Linked DNA regions of Homo sapiens: region 2 is linked to region 1. The links come from fine-mapping of genetic effects on gene expression. A gene starts in region 1. The other region holds a variant in brackets. All regions are shown on one strand. Distances are between the middles of the regions.

Region 1 (2,913 bases):
CCTGCTCTTGAGAGAGGAAATAGCAGCTCTACACTTATGGTAAGATAAATGTTGCTACACACCCAGCCCCAGTGTCTGTGTTTTAGGCTGTTTTTCCAGGGTCCCTGAGCATCAAGTGGGACCAAATTTGCTGGTGCTGGATTCTCCATTACACTGTGCACCAGTCAGCCGGTCACTGATTCCCTTCCTCTCCTCATTTGCTGTCTGTCATCCTCGTCCTGGGTTCCAAGCTGGAACACTCTCAGACTGTATCTAGACAAGTCCAAGGGCTGTTCCTTTTACAAGGTAGTGCCGGTAGTGCCATTTGCCCCTGGGAGTCTTCTGCCTGGAGTATATCCAGGCATTAGGCTATCCTGTCCCCGCCTCAGTGTGAGCATTAGACCTTTTCATTTGTCCAAATGGCCATTCATAGAACACACGAGTAGCATGCTATGCTGGAGAAGGAACATTGAGTGGAAGGGGCATTTTCCTCACAGGGTCAAATTCTCACAAACTCTGTCCAGGAAGAGGTTATATTTAGGAACAGTTTTGCTTTTCTAGTTCAAGGAATACAAATAGCAAGCAAGCTATTGGGACCAAGAATTAAACAAAAAGTAGGTCCACTTGGAAACTGTAAAGTGAAACAAAATATATGCCAAATTATTTCTTTTAGGTATAAGGGGGGTGACACTGGCTGAGACTGAGCTGGGTCTGGGGGAGCCCAGTGACCCTCTGCGTGCAATCCTCTACCCTTAGACCAGCTCTCTTAGTTACAAGTAGCCTGCATGAGAAGAAATGGAGAGAAGAGAGAGAGAGACATGGATCAGACAATGGAGTTGATTCTTCAAACCAGCCCCATGGATCTGAAACAGCTCCCAACAGAGAGAAGATGTAGGCGGAAGAGAGACAGTCAATTTGAAAAGGGCTTTGGTTACTCAGAGCACAGGCCTTTCAACCAGGTGAGAGGTCTGGCCATTGTTACCTGGTTCTAAGAAAATGCTGAGGCTCCATAAAAATATGTCACCCTGTAAAATTCCACCTCCCATTGCTGAGCAAAATGCCTGGGACTGTTTCCCCTCATTTCCCTGACTCCTTCCCTGTTGCCCCCAGCAGCCTCCTTCCCTCCTGCAACCTCCATTTCCTTTTGAGACAGCTCTGATTAGTATTTTAACCTGATGTCACAAGGTAGAAATGTCATTGGGAAGTTAGGGGACTTTGTAATGTGATTTTCTGCCTCCCTAATTTATCTCTGACATATCAAAGGGCTGCGCTGCCAAGGACCCAGGACTACGGGGTAGGAAACACTGAGGAGTTTCTCCTACCCCAGTGCCCATCTCTCCCAAGCATGCCCAGGTGCACACACCTGTCTTGAGCTCCAGCCACAAACCCACTGGAATTGGGAAAGGTAAGATGAGGAACTTGGTGTCTCAGGGATGACTTACGGTCCTTAGTGCTCCAAGAGGGGATGCCCATGCTCGTTGACTTACCAAAGAGCAGCACAGCCGTCCAGAGCAGCATGGGGCCTGTTCTGGCACAGCGGAGGGAACACAGGTCAGAAACAGGTCAGGGCGAAGCCGGCAGAGAGCAACCAGGCCTCAGGACCGAAGGTGGGTGGGTGGCCTGAGCTGGGTGGTGCTATAGCTTGATAGCCAAAATAGGAAGTGGAAAAGAAACTTACAAAGCTCTAATTGATATTTCCTCTTTGGTTGAAGAAGTATTACATGAATAAATTTTCCTGAACACTAAGTATGAAGGAGTCGGTAAATCACTAATAAATCCCTGACATTTTCTGCAGCTTCAACAAGCCTATGCCAGGGAACTAGGATGGAACATGGTTATGGGACACCTCCATTAGAAAGGTCCAGAGACTGCCCGAATTTGCTTGGCTTCAGCGTCATTCAGCCTGGGAGACAGCGCAGCACTGTAAAACTAAGATCATCTACCCCTTGACCACCGAGTGACCTCCCAGCTTCCAAGGAGCTCCTGTCTCCAGAGGTAAATGTGTGTGGATGCTGCAATGCGATGGAGAAGTGGAGCCCTGAGGATGCTTCACAGGATCCTCAGTTCAGGAGGGAATCAGACATCGATGAGTCTGGAGTAGAACACAGATGGAGCTTCGGCATCTGAGGCTTTTAAGACTGTCAGTATGATTTTGAGAACTATTCCTTAAAAGACACCATTAAGAGAAGGAACAGGCAAGCTGTGGTGTGATGAGATAGTTTAAATACATGTAGCTGACAAAGGGCCCACAGAAGAAATATAAGAATTTCTGCAAGTCAGTAAGAAAAGGACAGACAACATACTAGAAAAATGGGCAAAAATAATTGGATAGGTACTTCACAGAAGCAGATATCCACGTGTCAAATCAACATAGCAAAAGGAGCTAGACATCATAAATCACCGTGGAAATGCAAATTTAAACCATAATAAGATACCACTACACCTTCCATAAGAATAAGGGAGTGATACCAGCTGAGACTGAGCTGGGTCTGGGGGAGCCCGTGACCCTCCCCATGCAATCCTCTACTGAGTATTGGTGAGGATGTGAAGAAACTAGAACTCTTGTACACCACTAGTGGGAATATAAATTGGTACAGTCACTAGAAAATGGCTTGGCAGAATCTACCAAAACTAAACACAGGGATCCCTGATGGCTCAGCATTTTCACTCCTGGGTAAATGTCAAACAGAAATGTATACATATAAGCCTGAAAAAACATATACAAGAGTGCTCATAGCAGCATCATTTGTAATAGATAAAAACTGGAAATTATTCAATGTTCCCTCAACAGAAAAAGAGGTCACACATTCTCATCTCCTCTGTGGACAGAACATGGGAGTTCACGGTGAAACACAGAGTCAGGCAAAATACTAGGAAGCATTTTCATTTTCTTGTTTCTTTTCTTTCTTTTTTCTTTTTTTTATTGAGAAGGAG
Region 2 (2,913 bases), 28 kb before region 1:
ACTGATCTGCTAATTCAAATCGTTCTTATCTATTGTCAAAGCAGAACTCCTAAGGACGGCTGCTTGGCAGCTTCGTGCAATTAGTTCTAATCACGCTATGTATTTGGAAGCAATAAAACAGCAATTTCCTTAAAATCTGTAATTCAGCTGCTGAGAACAAGGCATTTTAGAGCTTAGTGGTGTGGGTGCTGCATGTATTATCACATTCAATGTCCTCATTTCACATGTGCGGCAGCTGAGACTCAGATCAGAGGAGGGGCTCCAGGGCTGCCTGTATGGTGGGGTAGGTTATTCACTACACAAGGACATTGGGCTAAGGGGGGTCACAGGGTAACAGGTGGCAGGGGGTGGGGGGTGCTGAAATCCAGCCAGCACTCTGCTTGCCAAGATGAGGCTCAGGGCTGCGTGCATCCAGAAAGGCACCTTGCAATTGCATCGGCACCCTGAGTGGCTCGCCCAAGGACAGCCAGTTAGCTGTCTCGGGGGGATTCAAGACATCTCCCCAATTTGCTTACAATCTTTATCTCCCTCATGGCTACCCTCTTCCCAGCTGCTACCTCTGCTTTCCATTCTTAAATCTGGACTCCCCTCTCTTCCACTCTATCTAAATTTCTAAGGTTTTACTGAAACAGTGATTTAGGGTCACCCATGCCTCTTTTCTAGCCCATTAGGTAGATAAATGAGAGCTGAAAGCCACTCTTTCTTGACCAGAAGACAAATGATGAAGGTGGTGGAGGTGGCTGTGGTGGAGGTGGAGGTGGAGTTGTTGGGAAACAAGGCCCACGCAGCCCCCAGTCCATGCAGCCAACCGAGGTGCTGAATGTAGCTGCGCGAATGGCTCTGCAGACCCATGCGAAGCAGAAGTCGCACCCAGCTGGGCCTGCCAACCCACGGAATTATGAGAAGTAAACATCGTTGTTGTTTTCAGTCAGTAAGTTTTGGGATGGTTTGTTTTGCAATGATGAATGACTGAGAGAACCCATGAATCATATATAGTTAAGATCTCTCTAAGAAGCCCTTTTAAGAAATGTGTAAATTCTATACTTTTAATTACAGTTTCATTATAATTTGATTTTTAAATAAACCCATTATGTCATAGTTTAGTATGGTACATCATTTTTTTTCCTTTAGACTAATGACACATAGTCTACACAGACTACATAGACTACATAGACTAGTGGCACATCTTATAGTCTATGATGATCCTTTAGAACTGAGGAAGCACAGGCCAGGCTCTGTCCTGGATGCCACTGCAAATGCCACTGCATTTCATCCTGTGGGTACTCTACATGGTAATATTACAATGCCCATTTACAAAGGAGAAAGGTGAAGGCCAGGGAGGCTAAGCATTGTGTCCAAGGCCACTGAGCCAAGAAAAGACTGAGCTAGAGTTCAGGCAAGCACTGTGAAATGGCAAAGCCTGGCTGCTGCAGCCAGGAGGAATTTTCTTAGACGTGACTGCCAGGGAGCAGCTGTTCCCTGAGTC[G/A]GCAACATGGTCAGAGACCAGAGCTTTCTGGAACCCAGCTCTCCCTGGCTGCTATGACTCAGGATGCTCGTCTGGTGCTTTGTGGGGGAAGAGGGCCAGGCAGCCAGTGTCAGACACACTCACCGTACACCTTGAGCTGGAGGGTCTGGGTCCAGGGCTGGCCCCTTGTGTCCACCATCAACACGGAGAAGTTGCCGCTGTCTCCAGACTCCAGCGGCCCGAGCTCCAGGCTGAGGTTGCTGTGTAGCTGGGCTCGGCCCAGGAAGCGGGAATGGTACAGAGTCTCCAGGGAGCCTCGGAAAAACGTGGCCAGGAGCTCTTCTGAAGGCCAGAGAGATCGCCAGATAGCCTCACGGACTTGGAAGCCAGGGGGACGCGCTGCCACCAGCAGCACCGAGCCCCCGACTTTGCTCAGCACTTGGGCACCAGTAACTGTAATGGGAAGTAGGGCTGAAAGAACAGAGCCCCTGGTCACTCTGCCTGCCCCACACTCCTCATCCTTCTTTGCATGCATCTGAGCTGCTATAGGGTGAATTGGGGCCCCTCCACTGACATTCCCTCCACTCAAGTTGAGGTTGCACTGTGCTAGGTACCAGGGATAAAACATATGGAAGATAACCCCAGTCTCTGCATTCATGGAACTTACAGAGGAAGCCAGACATTCAAGAAATCAATAAAAATGAATTCTGTTAAATACCATGAAGGGAAAAATGAGATGCCCTGGGAGAACACAGGTAGGGTGACAGGGGATCTCACCCAGCCTTGATGGGCTCAGAAAACAAATTGTTAAGCTGAGCCTTGAAGAGGAATGGGAATCAGCCAGGCCAAGCCGAGGGCGGCCTGGAGCAGGATAGGGAAGTGTCACCGGCAGAGGGCACAGTACTGACAAAGGCCTGGAGGGGGAGAGTTGGTGCCCAGGGGAACTGAGAGTAGTTCTCTGTGTGAGGAGTAGGAAATTACACTGCAGAGTTGGTAGGAGTCAGATCATGCAGAGACCTGAAAGCAATACTGGAGTTTGGGCTTTATCTGTAGAGCAATGGGGCGTCTCAGGTAGGTTTTAAGCAGGAGCGTAACAGGATTAGATGCATGGTTAGAAAGATCACTCCAGCAGGGATGTGGAGAATGCACTGGAGGTGGGCAGGACTTAGGCTGTTCATGTTAGTCCAGTGGAGAAGTGACGGCAACTTGAATTGAGGAAGGGAGCAACCGGGATGGGAAGAAGTGGGAGGAATTGAGAAACACGAAGATGGTGTGTAATCAGTAGGATTTGGTAATAGATTAGCTCTGGGGAGTGAAGGAGAAAAAGGAGTCGAGGACGGCTCCCAGGTCCTTGGGATCCACTGGATGTTATTCTCTGTGATCCAGAACAGGAGGAGAAACAGACAGGGGGTGAGAAAGCAAGATGCTGTTTTGGGGGACTATATTTG

Direction of the effects. Alleles are on the strand shown, and positions count from the first base shown. SD is a standard deviation of normalised expression in the study named.
For the expression in macrophages of the gene that starts at base 1,562 in region 1, allele G in region 2 goes with a lower level than allele A (large effect, 0.83 SD a copy in Nedelec 2016).

What was found. PIP is the estimated chance that this variant, and not a neighbour inherited with it, causes the effect.
Region 2: its variant is fine-mapped to the expression of FCRL6 in macrophages (Nedelec 2016, PIP 0.95).

Annotation. Positions count from the first base shown.
Region 1 is chr1:159,801,009-159,803,921 of GRCh38, reverse strand. It overlaps FCRL6 (Fc receptor like 6), which reads right to left and starts at 1,562. Exons shown (of 10, transcript NM_001004310.3): 1 at 1,467-1,562. The coding sequence starts at 1,497. It overlaps LOC105371464 (a long non-coding RNA gene), which reads left to right. Exons shown (of 3, transcript XR_922195.2): 1 at 1-1,384; 2 at 1,775-1,974.
Region 2 is chr1:159,828,889-159,831,801 of GRCh38, reverse strand. It overlaps SLAMF8 (SLAM family member 8), which reads right to left. Exons shown (of 5, transcript NM_020125.3): 2 at 1,610-1,936. Among named protein-coding and RNA genes, the nearest start is that of SLAMF8, 3.5 kb to the right of the region's middle. The variant G/A (reference allele first, on the strand shown) is at 1,487.